3 separate regions of the Homo sapiens genome follow, and regions 1 and 2 are each linked to region 3. Evidence: fine-mapped QTL for protein levels in blood plasma. A gene starts in region 3. Each other region holds a variant in brackets. All regions are shown on one strand. Distances are between the middles of the regions.

Region 1 (10,841 bases), 300 kb before region 3:
TCGTGCACACCTGAGGAGGGCTGCAAGCCTGTTGAGACCCTAATGAGCTGCAGGCAGGGGAAATAGGCGCCCCGCCTCAAAAGCCTCGTGACTCCTCCTCATGGTGTGATGGGAGAGGGAGCTGGGCCTGAGTCAGCCCACTCTGCCTGCCCAGCGGTGCACAGGGACACAGCTCTGACCACACAGGCTCAAACGATAGAACAGAACCGAGGCTGAAGCTAATGGGGCAATCCATCCTCACGTCCACTCCAGAAACAGAAAGTGACTGCCTTATAACTGGACGCTGAGCCAGTGGGCCAACCAGACGGACCACAGAAAGCTAAGAAAACCACCAGGCCAGGAGCAAATGACCAGAAAGATCCTTAGTAGGCCATTTCCATTGTTAATAGCAAACACCTGGGCCCCAGAATGCAGCCATCTGCAGCACATTATAATTCATGGTCTTAACTTGTGAACTTTGACCTCTGCTCCTCCTCCCTGAAACCAATTTAAGTGCAAATATAATTTCCCAGAATTTTTAATAAAGTCACCAACTGAGCTCTGGTCAGTTGAGACATGTACAGGAAGCTTCTGGACGTTACCAGAAAGTGGACTTTTCACTTCTGAGCTACGATGGCTATTTCTTCCTGCACCAAGTCCTGAAAGACCAAGAACCCAGGGGCGGGGGACACAGTGTCCATATTAAAAGGACCTCAGCCCATCAGAGGCCATGTATCAGACGAGCTACTCAGCTTCATTGCAAGAAATGACTGCTGAATTTGTGTGGGGGTTGTTGGAGGAGCAGACTCTCGTAGACATGGACAGATGCAGTGGTTAATAATGGACAGTGGGCATGTCTGAAATGGTACCACCCTTTCTTCCTAGCCCAGTAGACAGACCTGCACAGAATACGCTAGTTCTTTCTGCTGACTTAGCAAGCCTGTAACAGGATAGAGGCTTCTAATCAAACATGATAGAAAAAGCAGTCACGGTAGATATCTACAAGCCTGCCACCAGGGCTGAAGTCTACATGTGCCCAGTTCTTGCCCCACTGAGCAACTGACACTGAAGTTACCACCAGGGCAATGTGGAACTCAAGAATGGGAAAGAGCTGTCCCTCTCAACCCTCCCCATCCCCAAGCCTGCGAGCCAAAGGCTCACAGGTACCCAGTGAAAGGCCAAAGAATGGATCAGGAGCCTGAGGCTGCAGGCTGAGATCCAGAATGACCCTGACCACCTGTGGGCCCTCTGGCCTTCCTGAGCCTCAGTGTGCTCACCTGTAAAATGGAGACGATTGTACCTGTTCTTTATTTTTAGGGCTGTGACAATGAAAGGAGATGCCAAAGATCTTTGTAAACTGGAGAATGGTTCTACAAAGTCTTATGCTCACAACTGCTTTTAGATTTGATATTTTTGATCTCTCTCTTCCCACTTTAGCTAAATTAAGCAAAGACTTTCAGGGGAAGGCCCTGCTGGAAAGACTCTACTGTTTGAAAGCAAATTGTTTCCCTCACCCAGGTCTCCATGGATTATGTACAGAAAAGCAGTGGACTCTGCCTCCTATTTATCTGGGTTTTCTCTGCTCTATTTTGTTTTTATTTTCTTCTATTTATTGTATTGTGTGTATCATTGCAAACTATTGTAAATCCATTGTAGAATGATGTGGAATAAACAAAAAATGAAAATGCTGCTGCTGCAATTGCTAGATTTAGTACAAAAGACAGTGGCCTCAGAGCGTTCTCCCCAGAGATTTTGCCATTACACAGATAAGGAAGAGAAAACCTCACTCTGCACTTATCTAATTGTGCTGTACTCATCATCGCTCTCTCCATCCGCCCACCCAGCCAACGTCTATCCATCTGTCCATTGTACCATCTATCTATCCATTATCTGTCCATTTCTATCTATCCATTATCCATTTCCACCTACCCATTATCCATTCATCCACCTATCCACCTACCTATCATTGATTTATCCATCTACCCATCTTTCCTTCTTTCCATCCATCCTTTGTCTGTCTGTCCATCCGTCCATCCATCCATCATTCCACCCACCCATTATCCATTCATCCACTGACCCATCTACCTATTATTTATCTATCCTTCCTTCCTCCCATCCATGCATCCATCATCCAGCCACCCGCTCATGGATCCTTTCAGTCAAGAAGTATTTATTGAGCTCTACTATGTGTCAGGCACTGTTCTAGGTGCTGGGGATTCAGCAATAAACAAAACACAAATTCCTGACCTTGTGGAGCTGAAAATGAGTCCTTTTGGATATTGTCTGTTGTAGAGAAGTCTAGAAATAATCCTTTACCCTACACTGTGGCCTCTGTGCCTGGGGAGAGGAGGAAGCCATGGGGGTAAGTGTGTGGGAGGGGGATTGCAGGATTGGCAGGATTTCAGCTGAAATGTTTTCACACATGCTGTACAACAAATAAAATGCTGGGTTAACGAGCCAGTGACAGGAAAGCATTCTCTGCTGTTGGAACATAAATTGAAGGAGGTTTGCAGAATTAAATGGCTTAAAAATGGGGCTACCTCCCACCTCCCAGAGGTTGCACAGGGACATGGCTCTGTACTGAGGCAGCTTTAGTTCTCTCATAAAGCCCAGATGTGTTCACGGCCACTTCCATGTGTCAAACACACTGGGAAAAAGCCGCTTGACTTTATGTCCTGGGGCTTCTACTTAGGTCGGTCTGGAAAAATGCAAGCAGTTCATTTAACACTCTGAGCTCCAGTAATATGGGTATAGTTGGCCAGGTGCGGTGGCTCACACCTGTAATCCCAGCACTTTAGGAGGCCAAGGCAGGTGGATCACTCGAGGCCAGCAGTTTGAGACCAGCCTGGCCAACATGGTAAAACCCCATCTCCACTAAAAATACAAAGAATCAGCCAGGTGTGGTGGTGCACGCCTGTAATCCCAGCTACTTGGGAGGCTGAGGAACAAGAATCATTTGAACCTGGGATGCAGAGGTTGCAGTGAGCCGAGATGGCCCCAATGGACTCTGCCTCAAAAAAAAAAAAAAAAAAAAAAAAAAAAAATATATATATATATATATATATATATAAAATAAAATAGGTATAGTCATGACCATCTCACTAAGTTCATCCATGGGCCAGGTGCGTGGCTCACACCTGTATCCCAGCACTTTGGGAAGCCGAGGCTCACAGATCACTTGAGGTCAGGAGTTCCAGACCAGCCTGGCCAACATGGTGAAACCCTGTCTCTACTAAAATACAAAAATTAGCTGGGTTTGGTAGTGTGCACCTGTAATCCCAGCAACTCGGGAGGCTGAGGCAGGAGAATTGCTTGAACTGGGGAGGTGGAGGTTGCAGTGAGCCAAGATCGTGCCACTGTATTCCAGCCTAGGTGACAGAGCGAGGCTCAGCTCAAAAAAATTAAATTAAATTTAAAAAGTTCATCGATGAAACAGGACACCATGAATGCAGTCCTTCAGGGTCAATATCCCCTAAACTGGATATTCAAGGATCAGTGGCCACACAGAATCAGCCTCCCGAGCTTGACCTCTATTTTGTGTACAGCTTAACGGGGAGGACAATTCTAACTTGGGCAGCAGCTTTTCATATTCTAATGGAATTGCACACAAATTCTTTCATTTTCCAGTGAGCAATATCTAATTACATGGAGAAGAAACAAGAACAGGCTGCATATTGATGCGCCCTTCTTGAACTGTTTTCAAGAATCCCTCCTGCCAGTTCATTTTTCCCTGTGATAATGTCGGGGTACAGCTGACTCCATTACTCTGGCTGAGTAATTAAATTGATTCTAACTAGTAGTGTTTTCATCTTACCAGAGTTCCTCATTCTGTAGCTGTTCCTCCTTTTTTCTCTCTCTCTGGATAAAGATTTCCATTTTTTCACCTAACACTTTGAGGAAGGAAATGAAGATTTTCTTAAACTTTTCATTGAGAAAAAAATTATCACTCTCAAATGAAGAGTTAAGATGGAAAAATAATTCCCTTCAATTCCATCTTGGTAAAATTCCAGCATGACAAATGTATTTCATAATCTCCAACAGCACCCCAAAGTTCGAGGGAGAATTCTAACGATATGTATTGTCCACTGATTTTCAGGAAAGCAAGTTCTACAGAGTGTGGACTTTCCCGCTACATTGAATTTCTATCAATTCCTACCACTTCCAAAGCCCTTGGGGGATTTTTTTCACTGAAAATTGCAGTTCATTTTACCCTCTTAAAACACCTTTTCAGGCAGAAATCTCTTCCAAGAGAAATCCAGTTTTCCCACAGTATGAGGTAGGAATTTTCAGGGAGCGGTCTGCCCAGCCTGTATTTAATTCTTCCGAGATCGGTTTAGACTGGACTCTATTCCAGGATATCTTTTCTGCCTGCTGCCTCTTCTAACCTTTGCTCCCTGTTTGCAATAAATTATTGGTCGCTTTTTAAAAGATGTGAAATGATGTTATGGTTATAGATTTTTCTCTCTGTCTTTTAGAGGCCCACACTGAAATCACTTCTAGATGGTGCTTGATACCCGGACTGTGTAAGCAGATTTGATGAGGTACCCTGCAGTGAGGTCCCTGAAGTCAAGGATCCTGCCTTGTGTTTCTGTGCCTGCTCCGAAACTGCTCCCCAGGATCTGGCCTCTAGAGGGTACACAGTAAATACTAGTGGAGTAAATGAGTGGCTTTGCTCTGCCTGGTGGCCAGCTGCGCGTCTGTTGACCTCATTTCCTGTAGCAAGCTTGTCCTGAGTCAGGGGCAGGGCTGCTGTCTTCTCTGATGTCATTAGAGAAGGCCGAGGCTGTGCATGGTCACTTACACCTGCATTCCTAGCACTACGGGAGGCTGAGGCAGGCGGATCACTTGAGGTCAGGAGTTCAAGACCAGCCTGTCCAACATGATGAAACCCCATCTCTATTAAATATACCAAAAAAAAAAAAATTAGCTGGGCATGGTGGTGTGTGCCTGTAATCCCAGCTACTCGGGAGGCTGAGGTGGGAGGATTGCTTGAACCTGGGAGACAGAGGTTGCAGTAAGCCGAGACTGTGTCACTGCACACTCCAGCCTGGGTGACAGGGAGAGACTACATCTCAAAAAACAAAAACAAAAAGAGAGAGAGAAGGCTGACCTGGGTGGAGGCCACCTAGACCTGGGGACACATCTGTTTGTGTTCCGTGTCCAGGCAGGTGTGCCATGAATGTGTCCTGAATGGAATTAAATGTAATCGAATGGGCCAGTTATACATGCTTGCGGGGAAGTAGGATGGCAACACATTCTCCTTAAACGTGGTCATTTGATCTGGGTGTAGATTGCAGAAGGTCTGACCTCAGCTTAATGTGAATGATTTGCACCCCAGGAGAGCAGGGGGTAACCCTCATTTGCTTATTTTCTCATCCCACATTATCCTCAGTGCACAACACGAACACGCTGCCCGCCCC[A/C]ACTCCCAGTTGGCAGCTGGGGACACACTCGTCAGTTGAAGCCATTTGCCAGTATAGACCCAGCAAAACCCAGACAGGCCCAAACTCCTGATTTCAGCATCCGTGTGACAACTGTGGCAACAATTCTTTTCAGATACACATGAAGAAAATGTGAATGTGCTCCTTGGTGGCTCTCTGACAGAATCCCTAAAGGATGCTCACTATAGGAAAAGGAAAAAGAAATCTCAAACCAAAAGAAATATTTTACATCAAGTGTACAAGGCTGGAGAGGTGAGTGTGGAGCGTGGCGTGATGAGCACCGAGTGTGCTGGTGAAGGATCCTTCCTCTTCACAGTTTCCAAATGCCTATGAATTACACCAGAACTAAACTAGAATTCACACACTATTATTACTTGTTCTTCTAAAGGAAGCCTCCCTCTTCTTTTTTGTACAGACAGAAAACCCCTTAACTTGGCAAACTACAATATCTCAGAGGCTGCATGGTCTTCTTAAAAATGAGGAAACCTTAAAAGATAAATCAGATCATATTCCTATCTTGCCTGAGAAGCTTCAATGATGTCCCGCTGCTCTGCAGATAAGAATCCACGTTCCTGCTCTGGCCAACTGGGCTTTGCTGGCTCTGGTTCCTCCATTTCTACCCAGCATCACTTCCCTCCAGCCCCCCACAGCCCCAAGGCTCCTGGCAGCAAGGTGTCCCCACAGCGCCCACAGGCCCATGGTCCCCTGCACCTGAACTCCCTTCCTTCCATGCTTTGCAGGCTCTCCATCCCTGTCTTCCTTTTGGCCTCCCCCAAACCCCCACTTAAAGTGGGCTCCCTCACCCCATGTTTCCTCTCTTTGTCCTCTTCCTTTGCTTCCTTCACAGCACTCCTTCCAACCTGCAATTTATTACTTTTATTTTTTTATTTTAAAAATAGAGACAGGGTCTTGCTATGTTGCCCATGCTGGTCTTGAACTCCTGGCCTCAAGCAATCCTCCTGCCTTGGCCTCCCAAAGTGCTGAGATTACAGGTGTGAACCACCACACCTGGCCCAAACTGCAAGTTTTAAATTTTCCATTTTTCAACTCTTTTCACCACTAGAACACCAGTTCCAAGAGGGCAAGAAACAGGCTTGTCCTGTTCACAGCTGTGTCCCTAACACCTATCAGTGTGTAACAGTGGCAGGGGCTCGGTGAATATGACTTGCAGATTCACCTACCCCACCCGAGGAGATGGCCCTATTCCTCCAACTCTCATTTAACAGAAACTTTCTGCAAAAAAAAAAAAAAAAAGGAATCTGTAAGAGTCATTTTTTGAATGTTAATATTGCCTTTTTTCCTACTCTAGGAAGTGACATTTACTATTACGCTAAATATTCTTTGCTATGAGTGTTCAAGTCATTCACAATTTTCTTACTCCTATAAATGCAGCATACGTAGCCCTCACCTCCCTAAGACCAAGGGCTCCAAGCTCATTAATGGATAAACTCAACTGAGTTAAACTCCCACATGAATCCCCAGATACTGCTTTTGCCAAAGAGTCATTTCCAGGACAGGTCTTAAATGTTTAGAGACATAAAACACACACTCTTACACACACTTAAAGCCTTGCAGTAATTAATGATACAATCCATAAGGAACCCCCTCCAACCATCCCTGCAATGTGCAACTGAAGTCACACAAGTCTTAAGTTGAAATAGGACTCTATCCTTGTATTTACAGGCCTCAGGTCCCATTTGTCAGTGACAGCAATTGGTTAATGTTTTCAGAGTTAGGATTCTGGAATGTTTTGATAAAGAATAAACAAGGTATATGAAGGGATATACTTTTCTCCTTTAAGCCATCTACAATACTTGGTTCTTTTTGATTCTGAGATGTTAATATCATTAAAGCAGTTACTGATTCATCTCTGAATCACCTTTGGAGCTGAGACTGAATTTAACTGACATCCCCAAGCCTCCATCAGTGGTGGGAGGAGGAAGACACAGGCTGGCTGGTGTTTGGATGTGGGCCAGTTTAAAGTGAGCCATCACACGGAAACTGTGGACATGCTGCTGAGTGACTGCTAAGGGCACTGGGAGTCTTTCCAGCAATGATGAGTAGGAATTCTGAAAAAAGCCTTTAACTTTTTGATAGTTCCAAAACCCCTGTAAGCTAAGTAATAATATACTACCTTTGTGGAATGATTTACAATTTACAGACATGTGATCTCATTGAGTCCATTCTCCCACTCTCTCGGAGACACTATGAGGTAAGAGAACCACCATTTTGAGATAATACCGGAGCAGCCGGGAAAACTCCACCACGGGTGATGGATGACTGAGGGTTGACTGAGCCGCTCGACCTCCCCCTCACTGTGGGCTTTTGTGATTAATTCACCTACTTGCTTAGGAAGTTGCTTTCCATCTGAGAAAATTAAAAACACCACTCTCTGGACAGGAATGTGGGATCATAAATGAGAAGCAAATAGAAAAGATTTATACAAAAGCACAAGCTCAGCAAAAGAGAAAACTCAGAAATTGCTAATATGGTATAAATCAAATAAAGGCTATTAGCAAACCCCTGGTAATGGGGGAAAAAAAAGCCTTTTAAATGATTTGTCGAGCTCTTAACAATACCATTTCTACCTACGGTGTTCAAATATCTCTGGGGCGATCTGGCTTGCATTCTTCAGCACTGCCATGAAGACTTTCCAATTGGAAAGGATTTAGATAAAACCATATAGAGTGCCAGAAAATATGCCTTGCTATTGTGCCTTCAGAATTATATAATTTTTAGAGCTGTAGAGTCTTCATCATCTGTGCATTCCTCCCCACGAGCACAGGGGTCAAAAATATTTGTTTAATATGTGAACAAGTGGGTGGAGAGACAGATGGAAAGAAAGGAGGAAGGAAGGGTGGATGGGTGGATGGATAGATGGTTGGATGGGTGGATGAAGACTGACTCACTCATCTTATTGATGAGGAATGTAAGAGCCAGGGGGTTACTAAACTGCCTATATTATTTTAAAAAATGGTGTGAGAATTGGGACAACCAGATCTCTTCAAGTCCAGTGTTCTTGATCTAGGTTTTCCTCTCTTCCATTGGTTTATCAATAATTAAAAAACATTAACAATATTAACAATATGATCTTCTTAGTCATGGGAAACCATTTCTGGAGGCCCATAGGCTAATGTATTTGTGCCCATCTGATGATCAGGGAAATTAGACACACAGTGCATTTTCTATGGCTATGAGTTCATTGAGAGTGAGAAAACACGAAGGCCACTCAGTTGCACATCAGTCTCCTGCCAAACTCACTGTCTGAAAGTCACCCAGCGTGTGGCCCAGCATAGCGATCAGGGCTTGTGAAATGTTGGAAACAGAAGGCATCTATAGGCCCTTGGCCCAACCTTATACCCTAAGAAGGAAATCCTTGCCCCAAATGTCCAGCAAACAATTACTGTGCTTCCTCTCAGACACCTTTAGTGACTAGGAACATATTACTTTTTAGGGTGGCCTCCCTTTTGGAGAGACACACATGTTAGTATCTTGAGTTTTGCAATATTTCATTTCCTATCGGTTAGTACTTTGACTTTGTGTACAGATCCTTGGTTTCTGTCATTACACACTCACAAAGCAACTTCCTCAACAAAGTCTTGGTGACTCCCTTGAATTATGCTTAAGAGGGAACCACAAACAGAAAGATGCCCCTGAAGCCTCTGCCCAAATGGGGGCGATGAACATGAGGAATCAGTCACTTGCTGTAAGAAGATGCCTCCTGATGGCTCCCATGAAAGGACAATCCCCTGATGAGCTGTGTGGTTCTGCTCAGTTCTTGTTTCAAGGGCAACTCAATGCCCTACAAACTATTTCCCAGGAGGCCCACAAGGCTATTGCTTGAAAAAGCACAGACACATTCTTTAACAATTCCTCCCTCTACTGGGTCTTTTAAACCGCAGTAGCAGGTATCCCCTCACACCACGCTTGTCCCCTGGCCAGCAAGTCTTCACAGAGATGAGTCACTGGGCTGCTCAGAGCACTTGCCTCTTGCCCCAGTGTCTCCTTTTGGGAAACCCAGAGAGCAGGCTTGGGCTGGAATGTTCCATGAAAGTCAGTGTTCATAAGGTTTCAAGGTATAATAAAGAAGATAGCATTGTATCCAGCGCATGCTTCCCGTTACTAATGAGAATCTTCTTAAACTAGCACAAAGTTCTAGTTTGGGATAGGCCCTTTATAGATATAAGAACACATCTGAATCTCTAATCCCTCCAAGGTGCATCTGTTTCCACTTCGTTTGAACACTCCAAATAATGGAACTGTCTTGCTCTTTTCTGGTTGAACCAAGTCGGGAGTGTCAGGAAAGCATTAAATAAGGAACAGCATTGTAATATACCAAAGCAGAGAAATCATTTCATTTAAACCTCTAAGATCTGGTAAGGTGATGTCAGGGCAGAGACACTACAAACCCCCAAGCTACCGACTTCAGAGACACCCTAGGGCCAACCCTGGGGAAAGAAATACCTTCTACCCAGCACCCTCTAAAGACATGTGGCCCATCTCCACTCTGCCCAGTGAGTTTACATGTGGCCCATCTCCACTGCCCAGGCTTTCAGATGGCTGGCTCCTGGGACTGCCTGGCAGCTGGAGCCGTAGGCTCAAATAAAAAACACTTGCTGGGACAGGAAGATAATTAGCGATTTCTAAACACAGACAGCATCCATGCCCACCATTCCTCAAGGAAAAGGTCAGCCCTCTTCCTTGTACACACCATGTAGCATTGCCATCTGGCTGCCCATGGCTCTCCAGAGTAGCACAGGCCACCCTTGCTTCTTGGGAAGGAATTACTTTTTGGAAGCTTCCCTGGGTGCTCTGACCAGAAAACCAGAGACACTTTGACTCATCTGGTTCCCAACACACACTTCAAGCCATGCACACTGTCAAAGCAGATGGAAGCAATGGTACTTGCCCGGTGGAAGCGTTCATGATGCAGCCTCCTTTCTCAACCGCCATTTGACAGCTACAGCCCCTGTCCAGTGTGTCATGATTCATCCCGAAATTGTGGCCCAGCTCATGTGCCAGGGTCACGGCTGCACCAAGGGGATTGTCTGAATGGTCCTCAAAGAAAACACAAAAGTACAGGTGTATAATTCATATCTCCTTGGCCTTATTTCCCAGGTCTCCCTCCCCACAGAAATATACCTTTCATTAACATTTGACTTAATGTAATTCCTTATAAGGGACCAAGGTAAAACGCTATCATTTAGTTTAAACTTAAAAAGATATAATTTGACATTTCATTAAGCCAGTTTGGGGTCCTTTCGGCTGAGGAATGTCTGTATGCCGCACGTATACATGTGTGATTCTTTATGTTTTTACATGACATCTTCAAGGCAGGGTCTCCATTCTGCTTCCTACAATTGCCCCACAAAACTCTTCCATTGAATGAAGCAAAAAGTCATCCTGCATCATAGGAAAAGCTCA
Region 2 (10,841 bases), 39 kb before region 3:
TTTGATGGGGGTGGCATTGAATCTATAAATTACCTTGGGCAATATGGCCATTTTTACGATATTGATTCTTCCTATCCATGAGCATGGAATCTTCTTCCATTTGTTTGTGTCCTCTTTTATTTCATTGAGCAGTGGTTTGTTGTTCTCCTTGAAGAGGTTCTTCACATCCCTTGTGAGTTGGATTCCTAGGTATTTTATTCTCTTTGAAGCAATTGTGAATGGGAGTTCACTCATGATTTGGCTCTCTGTTTGTCTGTTATTGGTGTATAAGAATGCTTGTGATTTTTGCACATTGATTTTGTATCCTGAGACTTTGCTGAAGTTGCTTATCAGCTTAAGGAGATTTGGGGCTGAGACGATGGGGTTTTCTAAATATACAATCATATCATCTGCAAACAGGGACAATTTGACTCCCTCTTTTCCTAACTGAATACCCTTTATTTCTTTCTCCTGCCTGATTGCCCTGGCCAGAACTTCCAACACTATGTTGAATAGGAGTGGTGAGAGAGGGCATCCCTGTCTTGTGCCAGTTTTGAAAGGGAATGCTTCCAGTTTTTGCCCATTCAGTATGATATTGGCTATGGGTTTGTCATAAATAGCTCTTATTATTTTGAGATACATCCCATCAATACCTAATTTATTGAGAGTTTTTAGCATGAAGGGCTGTTGAATTTTGTCAAAGGCCTTTTCTGCATCTATTGAGATAACCATGTGGTTTTTGTCTTTGGTTCTGTTTATATGCTGGATTACATTTATTGATTTGCGTATGTTGAACCAGCCTTGCATCCCAGGGATGAAGCCCACTTGATCATGGTAGATAAACTTTTTGATGTGCTGCTGGATTCGGTTTGCCAGTATTTTATTGAGGATTTTTGCATTGATTTTATCAGGGATATTGGTCTAAAATTCTCCTTTTTTGTTGTGTCTCTGCCCGGCTTTGGTATCAGGATGATGCTGGCCTCATAAAATGAGTTAGGGAGGATTCCCTCTTTTTCTATTGGTTGGAATAGTTTCAGAAGGAATGGTACCAGCTCCTCCTTGTACCTCTGGTAGAATTCGGCTGCGAATCCGTCTGGTCCTGGACTTTTTTTGGTTGGTAGACTATTAATTATTGCCTCAATTTCAGAGCCTGTTATTGGTCTATTCAGGGTTTCAACTTCTTCCTGGTTTAGTCTTGGGAGGGTGTTTGTGTTGAGGAATTTATCCATTTCTTCTAGATTTTCTAGTTTATTTGTGTAGAGGTGTTTATAGTATTCTCTGATGGTAGTTTGTATTTCTGTAGGATTGGTGGTGATATCCCCTTTATCACTTTTTATTGCGTCTATTTGATTCTTTTCTCTTTTCTTATTAGTCTTGCTAGAGGTCTATCAATTTTGTTGATCCTTTCAAAAAGCCAGCTCCTGGATTCATTGATTTTTTGAAGGTTTTTTTGTGTCTCTGTCTCCTTCAGTTCTGCTCTGATCTTAGTTATTTCTTGCCCCTTCTGCTAGCTTTTGAATTTGTTTGCTCTTGCTTCTCTAGTTCTTTTAAATGTGATGTTAAGGTGTCAATTTTAGATCTTTCCTGCTTTCTCTTGTGGGCATTTAGTGCTATAAATTTCCCTCTACACACTGCTTTGAATGTGTCCCAGAGATTCTGGTATGTTGTGTCTTTGTTCTCGTTGGTTTCAAAGAACATCTTTATTTCTGCCTTCATTTCCTTATTTACCCAGTAGCCATTCAGGAGCAGGTTGTTCAGTTTCCATGTAGCTGAGCGGTTTTTAGTGAGTTTCTTAATCCTGAGTTCTAGTTTGATTGCACTGTGGTCTGAGAGATAGTTTGTTATAACTTCTGTTCTTTTACATTTGCTGAGGAGTGCTTTACTTCCAACTATGTGGTCAATTTTGGAATAAGTGCGATGTGGTGCCAAGAAGAATGTATATTCTGTTGGTTTGGGGTGGAGAGTTCTGTAGATGTCTGTTAGGTCCACTTGGTGCAGAGCTGAGTTCAATCCCTGGATATCCTTTTTAACTTTCTGTCTCGTTGATCTGTCTAACGTTGACAGTGGGGTGTTAAAGTCTCCCATTATTATTGTGTGGAAGTCTAATTCTCTTTGTAGGTCTCTAAGGACTTGCTTTATGAATCTGGGTGCTCCTGTATTGGGTGCATATATATTTAGGATAGTTAGCTCTTCTTGTTGAATTGATCCCTTTACCATTATGTAATGGCCTTCTTTGTCTCTTTTGATCTTTCTTGGTTTAAAGTCTGTTTTATCAGAGACTAGGTTTGCAACCCCTGCCTTTCTTTGTTTTCCATTTGCTTGGTAGATCTTCCTCCAACCCTTTATTTTGAGCCTATGTGTGTCTCTGCACATGAGATGGGTCTCCTGAATACAACACACTGATGGGTCTTGACTCTTCATCCAATTTGCCAGTTTGTGTCTTTTAATTGGAGCAGTTAGCCCATTTACACTTAAGGTTAATATTGTTATGTGTGAATTTGATCCTGTCATTATGATGATAGCTGCTTATTTTGCTCGTTAGTTGATGCAGTTTCTTGCTAGCCTCAATGGTCTTTACAATTTGGCATGTTTTTGCAGTGGCTGATACCGGTTGTTCCTTTCCATGTTTAGTGCTTCCTTCAGGAGCTCTTTTAGGGCAGGCTGGTGGTGACAAAATCCCTCAGCATTTGCGTGTCTGTAAAGGATTTTATTTCTCCTTCACTTATGAAGCTTAGTTTGGCTGGATATGAAATTCTGGGTTGAAAATTCTTCTCTTTAAGAATGTTGAATATCGGCCCCCACTCCCTTCTGGCTTGTAGAGTTTCTGCTGAGAGATCAGCTGTTAGTCTGATGGGCTTCCCTTTGTGGGTAACCCGACCTTTCTCTCTGGCTGCCCTTAACATTCTTTCCTTCATTTCAACTTTGGTGAATCTGACAATTATGGGTCTTGGATTTGCTCTTCTTGAGGAGTATCTTTGTGGCGTTCTCTGTATTTCCTGAATTTGAATGTTGGCCTGCCTTGTCAATAGCCAATCATTATAAAGAGAAAGCCCTACAAATGATGTTTGGCCACTTATAAAGAAAACAAATTTCTTTGTTGTTTCAATGTGCATTTACTTATCACTGAAATTGAGCCTTTTCATATTTTCATCAGTTATTTTTATTTCTTAATTTGGGGGTTGTTTGCTCACATTTATTGCCAATTTTTAATTAGCCTGTTTTTCTCTTATTTATTTGAAACTTTATGTGTTAAGAATATTAAACAGGTTTATTTCTAAAACAAACTTCTGGGTCACCCTGAATCCTGCCCTGAGAGTGGAGGCTGGGAGTCAGACATCCAGTGACGAATTCTCTGCTGCTGCTCAGAAATGGGGTACCAATGGTACAGGCTGAGAGTCAACAGCATTTCAGGTTTCCATGGGAGTCTAGAACAACACCTTCCAGTGAGCTCTGCTTTTCACCAAAGGTGGGACCTTTGGAGTACAGGGTGCTTAACCCCTGGGGCAATTGAGAAAGGAGAGGATTTGTGGAAAGCCTTTGTCTTAGCACCTGTACATTTAGTGCTCAATTAGAAGTTACGGACAGAGAGAAGAGAGAAAAAGAAACCTCTTCTGAATGTCAGTAGCCTGGAGGCTCCTCCCTGGGTGTTTTCTTAAGTTAGACTGCATCCTGCCTACTGGGAGCACAGAGTCTGGTAAAGAAGACGGAAAGGGATAGTGCCTTTAAGAGCAATCGGAGTTGGGCTAGAAACCTGATTCAGTTGAGGCGGTCCAGGATGTCTTCACAACAGGGATGCCAATGATATCAGGCTTTGAATGGGCAGGATCTGGGCATTCACGTGGGAGGATGGGGGAGGGAAAGGAAGCTTCTTATATGGAAAGAGAATGGGCCCAAGCATGCCTTTCCGAGTTATGCCCTCACCTCCGTGCTCTGCCTATACAATGTGGGAACAAATGCAAGAGGGGGAGATGAGAGAGAACGGATGCATATGAGGAGAAAAAAGTATTCAACCGAGCCCAATCAGAAGTGCAGTAGATGTGATCTACGTCCACTTTGTTCTAACAGAACACTCTTTTTATTCTGCAGGATGACTGAACTGAGATTTCCTCTGTCTCTGTGCCACGTGGACTTGCAAACTCACAGAGCCTTCATCACTGAGGAATGTTCTTTGACAGTCACTGTTTATGAGAGCGAACCATAAATTGGGATCCAAGTAGAATGATCAAATTTAGCAAATCAAAATATAGAACTTCCAGTTGAATCTAATTTCAGATAGACAATGAATAATTCTTTAGGATAAATATGTCCCATGCAATACTGAGGATATAATTACGCTAAGAAAAAATTCGTTGTTTATCTGAAATTCAGATTCAACTGGGAGTCCTGTTTTATCTGGCAATCCTAGGTCCATGCTTCCTTGAATGGTTTACAGGCCCGCAAAGCCAATACGTTTCAATAGATTCTTAGGAAACATGTTCTAGTTTCAAAATTTGAAGTTAACATGAGAATGCTTTACATTTAATTATTCTAGATAAATTCAGAGTGTACAGCACTATTTTCTATGGCACAGAATTTGAGACCAAATAACCTAGTGACATATTTGAGGGGGAAAAGGATCCTATGCTCACTGGAGAACACACCTCATAGCAATTGGATCCTCTTTATCTCCCAGCTTCTGCAACCCAACTGCTGGAAGACAAAGTCTATACACAATGCAGTGTTTCATTCAGGGGCCCACATGACTCCATCTGTCACCAAAGCACATGTTTGGCACGGACTGAAAGCCAAAAGCAGTCTAACAAATATTTCAAAACTGAATTTATATCTTTCTAACACATGGTTTATATAGGGAGGTAATACCTAGAGAGCTTTGCAGTTCTCAAATAATATCCTGGCTCAACAACAAATGATGTATGCAGCAGACCACAATACCAAAATTATTTGCTTTTAAAACATGTTAAAGAAAGCTAAGTTTATGAGGGGGCTGGTGCCAGAGGTGCCTGTTTTAGTATGCAGTTGTTATAAAATAAGAGACAGGAATCCAAATATATCCACTATAAAATAAACATTTGCATAATTCCTTATACAAAGAGGAAACTTCCCTCTAAAGGTCCAATTGAGAATGAAATTATCAAAGGAAGCAACTCCTATTTTGATGAACTTTCAACGTCCCTTACAGCCTCAACAATCCGCATATCTCTTCCATCTAGGCAAACTGTTTCGACACCAGATCTATCAGATCTATAACAATGCAAATACTATTACATTTATCTCTGCTAAGCAGAAAAAGATTACATAATGGAACTCTCCGTGGGCAGAATCACACAGGTATGCTGGCTTGCTCTTCAGGTATGGGTTTTCTCCAGAAGACAGATTTCTAGATGGAAAATGCATATGATTGAAATCTAGATATTTGTCTTTAGAGCCAAGAAGCCACATAGTAGCCTTTGTTTCATCTTTCCTTCAACTCTGTGATTGCACGTGGACACAGCTTCCATCTAAGAGAGAGTTGAGGGTACTTGTCACTGGCCGGCCAATGATATTCTTATAAATATTTCAATGCTCTCCCTGTCCCCAAGAAGAAACTGGAAAAAA[T/C]TGAAACAACTAAAACAAAGCAGCATCCACACACTGGCACACATTGTAATTCCTAACTTTTCCAGTGTGCCCTAAAGATTACTGTTCATGTCAAGGGCTGGGTGGGGAGCAAAGAAATTGTCAAATTGATTTTCTGTGGAATCAAGCAATTTGTGTTTTTCAACTTGACAGTATCAGCATAAATCAGAGCCACATGGAGAGAAACTCTCCTCTTGAAAATACACACCCACACACAGAGTCGGCCAAGCCCGAGTGAAGCAAGTTCTCTACAAGGCTGACTTTGAGAAAGGGAGGAAGAGGGGAGAGGAATTCAGCCCCGGGACAGAGACAGCTGCCTGGGCATGGCCACCACAACTAGACTCACCTGGCCCTGTCAACTCCATCATTCTAGGAAGTTCCTGCTCCAGAGCCTGACTCTGTCCATCTCTTGGAGCATTTTCCGCAGTGACCTGCATGTGTGAGCAGCTGTGTCTGTTGTCAGTGGCAGTCTTGTGTCGGATGTCTCCCAGTTGCCAGGCACTTGACAGATTACAAAGTGCTTCCCACATGTGTCACCTCACATCGGTGCACAGGAATGCTGCAGGAAGTTTGATTCATCCCATTCTACTGAGCAGGGGATAGGGTGAGTGGGAAGTGAGCCTTGGAGGCCGGGCACCTGGCCAGAATTCACGCCTCTGGCAGTGGGCAGAGCTCAGGCTCACATCCAGGGCTCTGCCTTGCCATGGGTACCTCAGATCCAGAGTATCCTGTGACCTGAACTGCTGCCGACCCCCGGAGCCCTGCCCCTTCCCCTGTCCAGGCTCTCCTGCATGGCACCTTTGCTCATGCTGGTCTTCCATCAGTCTGGGCCATGTTCCCCCACCACAGTGTACCCATATCGGTCACATAGTGAAATGAAGCAGGGTGTGGAAAGCAGGCCATGGCCAGGATTTCAAGCGAAGCTAGGCTGTGGCAGAGGTGTCCACGGGCAGTGCCCTCAGCCCGGAGGCCCAGACCCCACCTGTTCAGCCCAAAGCTGGCACCAGACAACATGTGCCCTGCTCCCCCACCCCACCCTGCCCTTCCCTTCTGTCCCAACTTCCCCCTTTAGTCTCGGCTTTCCTGCAGCTGTCCGGACCTCACCAGATGTGTCCTGGTTGTGACTGGCTTCTGGGAGCTCTGTCCTCTGCCAGCCCTATCCAAATCAAGAGGGTTCCCACTGGATAGGCCAGTTCTTGGCCTCACTGGTGGTCACCATCCTGCATGCTTGCACTACAATGGATCCCTGTCTGAAGCCTCCTACAAGAAATGGTCCCTCCTGCTCTGGCCCTCTGGTGCTGGATTTCCCTGCCTGACACAGAGCCCATGCATGGCATGTGCTTACTACCTGGCCACACTGGAGGGGAGCTGACTCCTTGCGACAGAGACTGCCGCTTCCTCTCCTCGGATCCCCCAGCACTGCACCTTGGACCTCCCACATGCTACATCAACATGCTGAATAGATGTGATAGAGAAGGGGGAGGTCCAGAAGCCCTCCAGTGACCTGCATGAAAACACCCCCTGGTTGATGGGTTTGGATCCAGGATCCAGGAACAAATCTCAAACCTCCTCATCAAGACAATGCCTTCAACTGTGCATTGCTCTCCCTGCACCCCCACCCCCAGTGAGAAGTGCTGAGTGCCCAAAGACTCTAGTTGGCTTCAGGGGTTATTTATAATCCCCCCACTCCAGCACTCAGCCCTCATCTGGCCTTTGGACACACACAGGAAGAGTGGACTGAGAAAGTACTCTCGGGTCACTATAGGACTCCGGCCTCGTCCCCTCTGCTTTAGACAAAGACTCACTGAGTTGTTCAGGGACTTCACTGAAGACCTCCGGCCTCAAGCCTCAGAACCCAGCACTCAACAGCACCCCTCAAAGGGCCAGACACACCCAGCTGGCTTGATGGAGGTGTCCTCGGCGGTGCTGACACTTAACATAAGGTCAAGGGGGGAACAAATTATTCACTTTTCAGTTTCCCGTCAAGCCCTCTAATTAGGAAAAAGTCCATTTGGTATTCCATGCCTAAAACCTCCCAGCCACTGGCTCTCTGCCCTTTTTCACAAAGAGAACAGGTCTTGGGCTCAGGGACACCAACAGACACTATTGTCTGGCTGCATTTTAATAACATTGTTTTGTTTTCCTTCAATTTATCTTTATAGTATTTATGTCAAGTGATACTGGCCTATTTAGAATATTGAAGTACAACTTCCTTCTTAAACAAATTTAAGCAAAATGTGTATACTGACTTAAAGTTTAAGATAAATTAAGAAAAATTAAGATAAACTAAGAAAAGCAAACCTGTGTATGGCACAGGTGATATACATTTATTAAAAAGTCATGAAAGTAAGTTCTCAAATGACACCAAGTTAGGAAACTTGGTACTATATGAACTGCTTGGACCACAGCTGGTCAGCGTTGCTATGCATGTAATTACTTAATGGCTGTCTTGTGTCGGATGTCTTTCAGTTGCCAGGCGCTTGACAGTTTACAAAGTGTTTCCTGCATCTGTCACCTCACGCCAGTGCACAAAGATGTCACAGTAGGTTTTATTCACCCCATTCTGCTGAGCAGGGGAAGGGCTGGGTGGGAAGTGAGCCTTGGAGGCTGGGGACCTTGCCATAAACAACAGGAATAAACAATAGGGTGTCACCACCATGGCAGTGATGTGATCCAGATTCAAGGTGGGATATAAGAATGTACATTCAAAACAAGCTCCCAGGGAATGGTTTCAGTGCAGACCATTTGGTAGACCAGCAGTCTCAGAGACCCTAGCCTTTGAAACAACCATCTCTGACCACCAGCTAAAGTCAAAGCACAAAGGCTGCTCTTGCTGTGGGTGCATCCTCACTGTGATCAAAGCAGGCTTCTCTCCACTGCTCCAGAACATCCTTCCTCCCATTCGTGGAACATCAGAGCATCTCCTGCATACCAAATGCAGCCCACAGATTCAAAAGGAATTGCCATCACTCCCTATACTTAAATGGCTGTAACACCCTATGAGTGGAGACTTGAACACTGATATCAATGAGCTCACAACCTCATGGATGGATCATTGTGTAACCAGGAGCTTTTATTTAGCACCAGCTATGTGCTAGGCCAAGTCCTTGAGGTTGGAATCAAAGGTCACATGCCTAGATCTGAAAGATGTTACGGTACAAGTGGGGAAAGCAACAGTGTCATACTAAGATGGTGGAGCTCCCAGGGAGAATGTCTTCCACAATCTGGAGAAAGGAGCCAAGGCTGAAGTGAGAGGACAGTGGTGAAGGAGGTTTCCCAAGGGACACAGGCTACTAGGCACAAAGGGAGGGTCTGCAGTAACAGCATTCAAGGTTCAGAAAGCAACAAGCACAGACAGGCACTCAATGATAAACAAGGCAAATGCTGTGTTTACATTAGTTTATCATTTTTTCCATTTAGTTTGCTGAGTATCTCAACCTGTTTATTAAAGAGCTGAGTTTTATGAAGGTCTCTGATAGCAAAATAAATAAGAGATTTATGACTCTTCTAATACTAACCACTATTTGTGAATAGACAAAGCTAATGGAATCCAGGTCTAGCCTGGTCCTGCTCATGTATCTTTCAAAAGATTTCATAATGAACTCTCCAGAGTCCTTAAAAAGAAGGGAAAGCTCCCTGCGGTAATCAATTGACTGCTCTGGCACAAACAGTCATCTGTAGGCTTCCAGCTGCCCTTATTTTGAACAGCATATTTTCCAGGGATAATACCCTTTTACAAGTCTACAAGACCATGTCTTAATCCTGGCCAGGGGAATCATGTTGACAGAAAATTCCAAATCCCTAAAGGAAGTTAACCAATTCAAACTTGAGATGCCATATTTGAAATGTTTTTTATAATGTTAACAAGCTTTTTTTTTTTTTTAAAGAAAAAGATATTTGCATTTCTTTACTTAGACTTATTTTTTCATTGATACTTCATCCTCCCTCCATCAAATCCTGCTCCTTTACTGGTTTGGTGTCTATCTTTGGACAAGTAATTTGGCCTTCCAGATTTGCCTTCCTCATCTGAAAAGTGATGGTAAATTTATGGGTTGTCACCTGGTTTCTTGGGGTTCCAAGAATATAGTACTGCAGTTCCAGGAGTCATTTTTATTAGAGTAAAAGCCCTAGAATATATTTTGCAATAATGTTAGTTAGTTTAACGCAATTGGCTCCAGCCCTCTACCAAGCCTCAGCTTTCAAGTAACTCATAGTCCTGTGTTCTGGAAGTAGGGGGATGAGAGGATTCAGAAGTTACTGCACATGGTATCTGGCATGCAGTAGAACGTCTGCGGGAGATGGAGAAAGGTTGGCAACCACAGGACTGAGTGAGTTTCTAGGATCTGCTGCATCTCAAAAATTATGTAATTGTTTATGTTTCATAGTCCTTACTGACAATTGTACATGCAAATTTCATTTAAATTATAACTAAAATTTTCATCATTAGCTTTTTTTAAAAAAATTAGAGCTTTAATGAGAAAAGATAATGTTTAATGCCAAGAACAAACTGGTTGATGATTCTAAAAGAAAGCTCCACCACATAGACTTTAGGGGGAAAGAAATTTTGATAAAAATCTAAGTCTTTTAGTGGATACTGCAGAACTGACTATGGCAAGATTTTGAGTAACCACTGCTAAAGTTTGTTTTTTTTTTAATGAATACTCAAAGATATATTTAACCAATGAAATTCTAAATCTGTACTCATTTTATGTTGGAGGGGAGGCAAAATAGGGAGATGGGAGCTTTTCACATATTTATATTAAAACTTGCATTGATCTTGGAATTCATAGTTCACAGAAAATCTGACCCACAAGAGTTCTTATGTCAATTGTCAAATAGCAATTCCCCACAGGAAAAAAATGTTGAAAGGTAAAAAATTTTTATAATTGTGTTGAGTGAATTTATACATCAAAATATATGGAATGAAACCAAAACTCGACTAACAAAAAATGTATAGTTTTAACTGCTTTTATTATCAAGAAATATGAACATAGATGAACTAAACATTCGGCCAAAAAATCACAACAATAAAAAGACAAAGGAGTTAAGAAATAAAACCAGAAATGACTAAATTAAAAGCTATGAATAAAAGGAATAGTGTTGATTAATAAATCCAAGACTAAATTCTTCTGACAGGCCAAATACATATCTAAATCTCCGACAGGTCTAAACAAGGGGAAAGATAAATTGTAAATAAAGAGAAGTGGGCAAAAATAGTGGAACAGGTGGCCCCAGGCTTTACTATCACC
Region 3 (10,841 bases):
AAAGTGCTGGAATTACAGACATGAGCTACCGTGCCCAGCCAAAAAATTTAAATAGAAGGGTTGGGAAATGAAATTAAATAACTGTCCCAGAAAGTAGAACAAAAATGTAAAGGGATGAAAAATAGATAAGAAAATTAAAGGATGTTTTCAGGAGGCTGGGACATTCAGCTAATAGCAGTTTCAGAAAAGCTGTGGTAAAAACAGTGAGGAAGAAATAATTGAAGAACGAATATAAGAAAGTATACTAAAACTTGACAACATGAATATTCAAACTGAAGGGGCCCACTGAGTTCCTAACAATTACTGATAAGAGCATTGCTAAAGCACATAATCATAAAACGCAAAAATACTAGTGACAACGAAAAAAGATAATCACTTCCAAAAAGAAAAAAAGACTACATTTAAAGGTTTGACAAGCAGAATACCATCAACTTCTCAAGCAGTAATGGCCATAGAGACATTGAAGAAATGCCTTATAAAATACTGAGAAAATATGATTTCTTTCTTGGAATTTTATACCTAAACAAACTAGCAATCAAGGGTGGAATGAATGAATGTGTGTTTATCTATATATTTTATACAAGGTATGCCAGAGACACATTCCAACCTTTGTTTTTACTCACAGAACTGTTTTGTTTGAAGCAGCAATGTACATAGTTAAAAATATTTACTTTTCTAGTATTCTGTACAAGCTAGCAGGGGCCCTGGGTCACAGTCTAGCCAATGATATCTAAGACAAAATCTACTACAAACGCTTATGGAAATATTATTTTCCTGATGAAAATAGATTTGACTGGTTCTGCCTTTTGTCCTTTCTGCTGTATTACTGCCTGGAATGCAGATATGATGCCAAGAGGTACAGCAGCTATCATGAGACCATGAGGAAGTAAGCATAAAGGCAAAAGTCAACATCTACGTATCGCAGATAGAAATAAAAGAAAGTGCTTGGGTCCCCGATCACATCAGTGACCTGACACACCAGTTACACCAGCCACCAAAATACTTACTTTGCAACTGCTTGTAAAGAATACGAGCTTGTAAAAATTGCTGCTGTCATGTTTTTTTGTTATTTGCAGCTGAAAGCATCCCTGACATATTCACAAGTTATCAAAAAAAGTTGTATCTTCCCAACACCCATCCTCAGGAAGTTACTGGAAAACGTGCTCCACAGAAATGAGGAATGAACTAAGAAAAATTTACAGTGCTCAGAATACAGATGATTCAACACAGGAAGGATGCAAGAGGAATTCTTAGCGTCTTGGTAATAAGGGTAGTCCTGAGATAACAGCTGTAATGTATGCCTAAAAAGTAACCCGTGAGTCACATTGGAACAGGAGGATGAGGGGCTCTAGGAAAGATGACATCAGGAAAAAAAAAATCATGGCTAGACTACCTGATGTGTTGGATCATATTGAAAGGAGGTTGATAGTTCTTCCAGAAAGTGTGGAAGTAAAATAGAGGTTGCGTAAGGGATGGGAAAAACCAAAAACCAAGTATTCTCCCTACTCTCACTCTCAGTACCGAATGTTTCACCTCTGGTCACCCAAATGTGTGGGAGTTTCTCCCCACCAACCACCAGTTCTTCAGTAGAGATCAACTGGGAGTCCTACAATTTAACTCTATTCTGACTCTATCTACCTGGAGAAAGCATCAGATCACACAGGTTAAGGGCTCAGTCCCACAAGACTTCCCCCCAATGTCAGATGCCAATCACAAGTAGTAGGTTGTCACACCTATACTTCTGACCAACTAGCTATAAGTTGGGGGTCCACAACCCCCTTCTCAGGTTCAGTTAATTTGCTAGGTAAGCTCACAGAACCACAGAAAACACTTGCTTATATTTACCAGTTTATTATATTAATGAAGGATGTAATTAGGGACACAGATGAAAAACAGTTGGAAGAGATGCAAAGGGCAGAGAATGTGGAAAGGGATACAGAGCTTCTGTGTCCTCTCTAGATACGCCACCCTCCAGGAACTTTGATTTGCTCAGCAATCTGGAAATTCTACAAACCTTGTCCTTTGGGGGGTTTATGGAGGCCTAATTACACAGCCATGATTAATTACACCATTGGCGATCAAGTCAACCTTCAATCCGTCTCCCCTCCCTGGAGGTTGCAAGGGAGGTGGCACTAAAAGTCCCAACTCTAATCATGCCTTAACAAGCTCATTAGCATACAAAAGACACTCTTAATACCCCAGAGATTCCAAGGATTTTAGGAGTTCTGTGCCAGGAACCAGGGGCAGAGACATATTTCTTATTATATCACAATATCACAGCTTGGTGCACAGAAAATAAAGCAAACAAAAATCAAGACAAGGCAATCATTAACTCTAGGAAAAGCAAAAAGTTACAAGAGGGATGAAATGCCATAAAACACTGCACGGCAAAACAGTGAAAAGTATTTGCAAAGTCTTCTTAGTGCAAACATTGAATTTTTTTTTAATGATGGCACTACTATATTGGGTAGTTGAAAAGAAGAGAAGGCAGTGTGTCTGGAGTAGGGTGAGCAAAGGGAGAATGGTAAGAAAGGAGATCAGAAAGGAAAACAGGAATTAGGTCATGCTGAGGTTTGGATTTTCTTTCCTAAGGGTGCTAGAGAGCCACTGGGGAGTTTTAGACAGGAAACTTGAATGCTCTAACTCATGTTTGAAAATAATAACTTTGGCTCTATTGTGGAGGAAAATATACCATGCAGGGATAAGGTGAAAAGCCAGTAGGCCCGTTGGGTAAGAGGGATAAGAGGCTTCTGCAGAAGAGATTTTTCCTATAATGTGGCCTGGACTGGGAAAGGCACACTTCGGGATGTAAGGAAGTGGGTAGGTGGGAATATACTTAGGAGGTTGGTGGCTTACGGAGTAAAAAGAGGGACACAGGGATGACTTCCTGCATGTCAGCACAAGGCATGTGGAGAAGGCAGAGGAGGTTGTTACTGGGTTCAGGAAGGCTGGGGAGGGAATGATTTGCAACTAGAGAGTCTGGGATCTAGGGTTCTGTTTTGGACTTGTTAGGCCGAGTTGCCCCAGAAAGTACCAAGTAGGCAACTGTGCCAGGGCTCAGGGTACAGACAAGGCTAGGGAGAAACTCAGAATATGCTCAGACTCAACAGGTAGTAATTCCTCCTTTTCTCTTGCCAATGCAAAGAAATGTTTCATTATATGTTTGGCGTTTTATACGGCCTCAATGGTATGATTTGGGGCACTGATTGATTGAAGACTTGATACTGAGAATCTAAGGGTAAACAAGCAGTGAATCCTGGAATATATCACAATAGGTAACCCATTCAAAGTGCTTAGGCCTCCCTGGTTTTCTATTTTGGGTCATATCTGTCTTAAGGAAACACTCTCTCTACCAAAGCTGAACTCATAAAATAGTAAAAGTCCTCCCCCGCCCACACACACAAGAAATAATTTCCCATTATTAGCTGGATTTAATAAACATTTTCTTCCAAAAAAAAAATTTGTCCCTGCTCAGTAGACTTCTCTTTATGTGTACAAAGCACGTGCCAAGTTAAAGACCATGTCAGGCACACTTTGAGACACTTTCCGTTTTTTAAAAAGTTCTTTCTTAATAAACATTCAAAAGGACCAATTTGTTTAAAAGTCTTTCAAAGCACAATTCACTACAGGTCGTAGAGTTCTTTAAACCCTCAGCAGGATTCTTTCTTGACTTTCTCATTGCTTTGTGCAATCTTTGTATTTAATCATTTATCCCCGAATTGGTCTTCGCAGTGTGGCTTTTAACAAGAACTGGGTTTTAGCCACATTACAGTAGACGCGGTGGGGGCGGAGGGCAGCAGTGGCAATCGCAAAATAAAACGTATCATAAAGTGGTAACGGTTCGTGATTTAGGCCAGTTGTTGAAAAATAAATGCCTGTTATATAGAATCACAGAACTTGAGAGCTTGCGGCCAAGGGAAGTCGTTCATCGGTGGACCGACAGCGCCCCGGGCGGCAGAAAGAAGGCGGCGGCGGCGGAGACCCGGGGAAGTTGCCGGATTTTTAAAAAGGCACCTGCTGGGTGAGTCCTCACTGTGCAAACGGGAGCCACAGGTGCCCGATTTTAAGGGGCTACAACTCGGGAAAACCTAAGTCTGTAAAACTAAGTACGTTAAACTAAGTAAGTTCTCGCTGTGCACCAAGTTGATGGGGGCGATTATTTACGGCGGAGAAACTGAGTGGAGGAAGGAGGGAGAATTCCGCTAAAGTTTGCCTGCGACTGACAGCTAGGGAGTGACCTGGAAGCCAGGAAGAGGGGCAGAGAGGAAACTAAAGAAGTAGGTAAGAGAGTCAGTTTATGAAAATAGAGCCTGCTGTGGAGAGCAGCAGGCACACCTGCGGAGGAGGGGGCTGCCTCACCTGCGGGGCCGCTGCGCGCCCCCCTAAGTGTGTTAGCGGGGGAGGCGGGGCTGGAAAGGAAACCTGGTGAAGGGCTGGCCCGGAGCCTGGGGTGGGGATATTCACTGCGGGATAGGGCCAGCAAGAGGACCCGACACGCATCGTCCCGAGTGACACGTGTAAATGTCAAGATACAGAGACATCTGCAAATGTCACCCAAGAGGGTGAGGACGGGGGAGCGGTCCCGAGGCTGTGCCCTCCGGGGCAGGTACTGGCTCCTGTGGGGCTGCGGGCCAAGTGTCGCCCTTCCCCAAGGAATTGGCACCTGGGGGGGGGGGGTCGGTCTCGCCGCGCTGGAAGCGCAAGCCCCGGGGCTCCGGAGATGCGCCGGGGCGCGTCGCCCCTCGGGGCAGCCCTGGACCTCGGCGCGCCCAGGCGCAGCGTGCGGTGCCCTCGGCGGGGCGGGCAGCGAGCCGCCCTAGTTCGGCGACTTACCTCGGGCCTCGCAGGGCGCGAGCAGAGCACCGGCCAGGGCGAGCAGGAGGGCGCGGGCGGGGGACACGGGCAGCGGGCGCGCTGCCATCGTCGCCGGCCTTCAGTGCAGCAGCTCTCGGGCCCGGCGGCGAGCGCTGCACCATCCCACGCGGGCGCCGAGCCGGGGCCGGGCGTCGCGACCGGAGGGATTTCCTGCCTCGGCGAGTCAGCTCCGGAGCCCTCGCGCAGCGCCCGCGCCGCCGCTGAGCTCTTCTAGCCTTTCATTTTTAAAAAAGTTTCCCCCCGTGTGTGTGCGTGCGTGCGCGCGCGCGCGCCGTTCTGGCACAAGCCAGCCTTGACCGTTGCAATAAATGAGCAAACTGTCCGAGTTGGCCCGGGGACTAGGAAGAGCGTTAGTGAGAGAAGGCAGGCCTGTGAAATGGATCCACGGCCAGCAGTCACCGTTCTTATTACCGCGGAACAAATTATTGTCTCCCCCGCACCCCCGCCAGTTGGCGGCGTCCCGCGGGTCCTAGAGACCGCTCGGGTCCCCCCGCCAGGGTCCCGCCCCGAGCCGCGGCTCGCTCACCCCCGAGGGTGGGCGGCTCAGACGTGGCTCAGTGGCGTCCGGGCGCCCGGAGCGCACACGTCCCCGCCCCAGGATGATGTGGCCGCAGGGCCCGGGGCGCCCGGCTGCCAAGCGCACATGCGGCGGCACGGTCCAGCTTTTCAGGCTGAAGCTGGAAACGATGACTCTGCTACTCGCTCCCCGGCTCTCTGGGAACCCTCGGAGTGCGGGTCAGGTCTCCACCGCGGCCCACAGCCCGGCGCGCGACCCCGCCCGGCCCTAAGCGCCCAAAGGGGCATCTCTCGCCCGAGAAACAAGCTTGGACTCGCAGGCACAAGACACCTGGGCGTTACTTTTGATCAACAGTGTTAGGTTTTACGTTGATAGATTGGCTCACGTTTCCATTCCATGACCTGGACCCAGAAAAGGGTGTACAGTGACGTTCCCCAAACTTTCCTGATTGTAAGAAGCACCTGGGTTGGCTTGTTAAAAAGATTCCCGGGCGCCCTCCTACGCTTTCAGAATGAGACTCTCCAGGCTGTGAGGCCAGGGGAGCCCAGGGTGTTTGGAGAAACACCAATGAAAGAATGGTGCGCCTTGCCTTCTCATCCTTGTTCCGGGCTGACCCCACCTCTTCAGCCTCGCTCGGCCCTCAGGGAGACCATGAAAAGCAGCAGCGAGGGGGCCCGCACAGACAGAAATGGCTGGAGCTATGGAGGATGGCTGATGCCCACCCTGCGGGTTACCATGATTCCCAACCTTGGGGACTTATTAGAATAGTAAGAGTTAAAGACATTGCCAGCCCCAGACACCAGTTAACTCAGTTTCCCACAATGCGTGGAGCTCAATAGTTTTCAAAGCCTCAGGTGATTCTACTGTGCTGCTCAGACCTAGGACCACCTGCAGAAATTCCATCCTGGTCCTGCGACCTCGCACCGATTCCTGACGGAGCACCCACTCCTAGGAGGCGGTTATCCAGCATTTGAGGAAGCTGCCTTCCATACCATCTCTTCCCACTGCAGAGGAGTTTTCTCAGGAGTTCCCTCCCACGGCAGGTTTTGCAGTGTTCCCAAAACCCAGGTCGATCCTCCTAACAAGGTGCAGGACTTTCTTTTTAAAAAACCTTAGTGGGAAGCACAGGCTCTCCAGCCCCCTTCCCAATGCTGCCATATCTCAGTACCAGATCTGGAAACCAGGCCTGGTTCAAGCCCTGTGTCATATCTAACCGTACTACCAACCAGCGTTGCAGTGTACTTCTTTTGTTCATTCATTCAGTCAATCTACATGAGCAACCCTATGTTAGAACTTGGGAAACTAAACGAGAAAGCCTCTTGCCTTCAAAGACTTTTCTTTCTGATCAAACTGATAAATCATCATTATTGGACAGTGTGAGCTAGTTACTTAACCTAGTTAATAATGATTAGGCTTGTTTACTGATATGGTTTGGCTGTGTCCCCACCCAAATCTCATCTTGAATTCCCATGTGTTGTGGGAGGGACCTGGTGGGAGGTAATTGAATCATGGGGGCAGGTCTTTCCTGTGCTGTTCTCATGGTAGTGGATAAGTCTCAAAAGATCTGATGGTTTTAAAAAGAGGAGTTCCCCTCCACAAGCTCTCTCTCACTTTCTGCCTGCTACCATCCATGTAAGACATGACTTGCCCCTTCATGTCTTCTGCCCTAGCCATGTGGAAATGTAGGTCCATTAAACGTTTTTCCTGTATAATTTTACCCAGTCTTGTGTATGTCTTTATCAGCAGCACGAAAACAGACTATTTACTACTTCATAATTCATTACATACCTCGTATAATCGGAGTATTGTGCTAACGTCTTTCACCTGCATTATTTCATTTTTTAAGTCCTGAATATACAGATGAGGAAACTGCAGCATAGAGATGTAGCTTTCCCACCACCACACAGTGAAGTAGGTCAGAGCCCAACCTCAGATCTGTTAAAGATAAAGCCTGTTTCTTTAAGGCTGAGTTCCAACCTTCAGTTTTAGCAGCTGTTAAGTGAAGGTAAAATACAAACCTCCCAGGTGGTTGTGAGCACCAGGTGAAATAATGCAATGTCTCCCAACCCACCTGATCCCTGGGATGTCTGTTAAGAATTCAATTCCTCTGGCGTTTGCACTGGAGATTCTCATTAGAAAGGTCTGGGAAGGACAAGTTTTAGCAAGTACTTAGGTGATCCTGATACTTGTGGCCCATAGAACTTCAGACACATCGACGCAAGAGAATTAAAAATTGTTTTCTTCCAGCTCAAAGGGCCAGATTTGCTTGCAGATGAGCCCAGCCACTGGCCTCTCGGATCCTTCTGACTGGTTAAATGGTTTATTCACAATGGACCTAACATGTGCTGTGCACTGGGCTGGGGGCCTTGTATACATTTTCTCTTAATGATCAATTTATTTTCGCTCTTTCATATTCAATTGTTAATGTTGACTGTAAAAGTCCAATTTCTTTTAAACCTGGATGTTGCAAAGCTTCCTCCAAAGAACTAAATGTGCCCCAAGACTGTCCTTGATTTGTTTCTGACTGAACGAAAGAAAACAGCCATTGCAGAGGAAAAATGAAGAAAAATAAAATCCTGGCTGCAAGCTCTGGATTTCAACCCTGTAATTCACCATCTCTGTGAAGCAAGCGGCCTGGGCTGACACTGTCTCCACAAAGCCTTCATAGACATCAATAACAGCCAGCTAAGGCAAAGAGCAAATCCTGCGTCTGGCAGATGGTCTGTCTTTGGATGGAAATTCTGCCTCCTCATTCACAGGAAATGGAAGCCGACATCACATTCAATACTGGATTGTTAGGTAATGGTGTGGGGTCAGAGGCCAGGATCTACACACGAAAATTTCAGATAGATGGCTGGTTGTCCCTTCCTTTCTGGAAGAATTGACCTTTGCAATACTGTTTCCTGTGTGCTATTTTCGTTTAACAGCCTGGGCATTCACAACGAACAGGGCACTTATTTCTTACCCAAGCTCATGTAAGCTCAATCTGCTCTGAGTACAAGCAGATGAAAAACGGAGACAAACTTTCCTAAGCCAGGAATTTACAGGCAGCCACTGCTAATTTCTGCAGTAAGTGAAGAGCCGGCCTCCTTGCAGAGTGACCTATTGACAGAACTTCAGACACAGGCTTGCAGAACAGCTTTCCTCTCTCCAAGCACAGTTCCCAAGGCTTACTCCAAACGTAAACAAATGTGATCACCCCAAGATTAAGATTCTTGGAAATCATTTTTATTCTATCTCTTGGAGAGATGAAAACTCCTGCTCCTCTCGGCGTATTATAATAACATGTAGTCCATTTTTCTTTTCCTAGATCTCTCACTTCAAGAATCCATGCCTTCACCTCCTCAGAAACCTGCCCCCAGTGAACCTCTTCTGGGCAGATTAAACCCTCTTGTCTCTGATGCTTTCATTATTGCACAGAATTAGCACTTAAGTAGCACTAAACGCCAAAGAAAGAATGCTCCTGGGGCTGGGGACAAGGAACTCGGGGATGCGCTGTGTCACAAGAGACAGGAAAGGTCACCCCATCTATATTCATCTATGTCACCTACCCACTGACCAGTCAACTTCTCCAACCAAGTGACAGTCATACTTCACTTAACAAAGATACATTCTAAGAAATGCATCATTAGGCAGTTTTGTCGCTGTGTGAACATCACAGAGTGTACTCACACATCTAGGTGGTACCGCCTACTACACATCTAGGTTTTATGGTATAACCTGTTGCTCCTAGGCTACGAACCTGTATGGCACATGACTCCACTGAATACTGTAGGGAATGGTACAGCAAAAAGGCAGAAAGGTACAGTAAAAATACAGTGGAAAAGATTTTAAAAAATGGTACACCCGGATAGAGAAGCTCCATTATAATTTTATGGGAGCATCCTTACAAGTGCTCAAGTGCGTACCACGTGATTGACCAAAATGTCATTTGGTGACTCATGACTGTACTGTGATGGGAAACTTATTATGCCCCTCCCTACACACCCCCAGATTCCATTTTACGTACCCCAAGTGACTGACAGTACTAAGAGAAACAGACACCTCCTGGAGCAGCAGCAGCTGCTGAGACAGCCTCCTAGACCAGGTGCTTATCTCTCCCGCCATCAGCGGGGGCAGGCTGAGTGCAAAGCCAGCACACAGCGAAAGGAAAAGGGGAATCTCAAAAACAAACATGAACTATGACAAGAATGACCAAACATTTGAGGATACTTCATTTAAGAAATAGGGCTGGCCGGGTGCGGTGGCTCACGCCTGTAATCCCAGCACTTTGGGAGGTCGAGGTGGGCGGATCGCGAGGTTAGGAGATCGAGACCATCCTGGCCAACACGGTGAAACCCCGTCTCTACTAAAAATACAAAAAATTAGCCGGGGGTGGTGGCGGGCGTCTGTAGTCCCAGCTACTCGGGAGGTTGAGGTAGGAGAATGGTGTGAACCCGGGAGGCGGAGCTTGCAGTGAGCCGAGATCGTGCCACTGCACTCCAGCTCCAGTCTGGGCAACAGAGCGAGACTACGTCTCAAAAAAAAAAAAAAAAAAAAGAGGGCTTAATCATCTTCCCTTTTCATGTGGGCTGGGCTTAGTGACTCTTTTTTTTTTATTTCAATAACTTTTGTGGTACAAGTGGTTTTTGGTTACATGGATGAATTATATGGTGGTGAATTCTGAGATTTTAGTGCACCTGGGACCCAAGTAGTATATGTTATCCCTGATGCCCCTCCCATCCTTCCCCTTCTGAGTCTCCATAGACCATTATACCACTCTGTGTGCCTTTGCACACTCATAGCTTAGCTCCTACTTATAAGTAAGAACATATGGCATATGGTTTTCCAGTCTTGAGTTACTTAGAATAATGGCCTCCAGCTCCATCCAAGTTGCTGCAAAATACATGATTTTATTCTTTTTTATGGCTGAGTAGTATTCCATAGTGCATATATACCACATTTTCTTTATGCACTCATTGGTTAATGGGCATTTAGATTGGTTCCATATCTTTACAATTGTGAATTAGTGACTCATTCTAACAAAACGCAGCCTAAGTGAGCAGTGTGTAAGTTCTGAGGCCAAATCATGAAAGGCATTTCAGCTTCCTCCTTGACTCAGGTTGCTCGCTCTGGAGGCAACCAGCTGCCATGTCGTGAGGAGCCTCAAGCAGACCAGTGGAGTAGAGCTGAGGTGGGGAATGAGGTTTCCTGCCAATAGCCATGTGAGTTAGCTACGTTGCAAGTGGATCATTCAGCCCGTCATTTTCAGATGACAGCAGCCTTATGAGAAGACCCCAGGGCAGAACCATTCAGCTAAGCTGCTCCCAAATTCCTGACACACAGAAACCCCCTGAGATAATGAGTATTTGTTGTTTTGACCCATTACTTTGGGGAATAATTTTTTACACAGCAATAATTGTTATGCATGTAATAAAGCGAACATTCCATTTCTATGGATTTTTCTAGC

Direction of the effects. Alleles are on the strand shown, and positions count from the first base shown. The strength of an association depends on the size of the effect and on how common the allele is.
As copies of C replace A in region 1, the plasma level of the protein whose gene starts at base 5,253 in region 3 goes down (weak association).
In carriers of allele T in region 2, the plasma level of the protein whose gene starts at base 5,253 in region 3 tends to be higher than with C alone (moderate association).

What was found. A credible set is the group of variants that fine-mapping cannot tell apart. PIP is the posterior inclusion probability: the model's chance that the variant is causal. The UK Biobank Pharma Proteomics Project read protein levels with antibody pairs (Olink). The fine-mapping took linkage between variants from a reference panel, not from the people measured, so its PIPs are less certain.
Region 1: its variant is the best candidate, but not a certain one, in a credible set for the plasma level of the ADAM12 protein (UK Biobank, PIP 0.77).
Region 2: its variant is the best candidate, but not a certain one, in a credible set for the plasma level of the ADAM12 protein (UK Biobank, PIP 0.62).

The regions. Positions count from the first base shown.
Region 1 is chr10:126,083,659-126,094,499 of GRCh38, forward strand. ADAM12 (ADAM metallopeptidase domain 12) reads right to left here. Exons shown (of 23, transcript NM_001288973.2): 11 at 10,327-10,475. Among named protein-coding and RNA genes, the nearest start is that of FANK1-AS1, 120 kb to the left of the region's middle. The variant A/C (reference allele first, on the strand shown) is at 5,400.
Region 2 is chr10:126,344,574-126,355,414 of GRCh38, forward strand. All of the region lies in intron 1 of ADAM12 (ADAM metallopeptidase domain 12), which reads right to left. Among named protein-coding and RNA genes, the nearest start is that of ADAM12, 38 kb to the right of the region's middle. The variant T/C (reference allele first, on the strand shown) is at 5,575.
Region 3 is chr10:126,383,225-126,394,065 of GRCh38, forward strand. ADAM12 (ADAM metallopeptidase domain 12) reads right to left here and starts at 5,253. Exons shown (of 23, transcript NM_001288973.2): 1 at 4,834-5,253. The coding sequence starts at 4,921.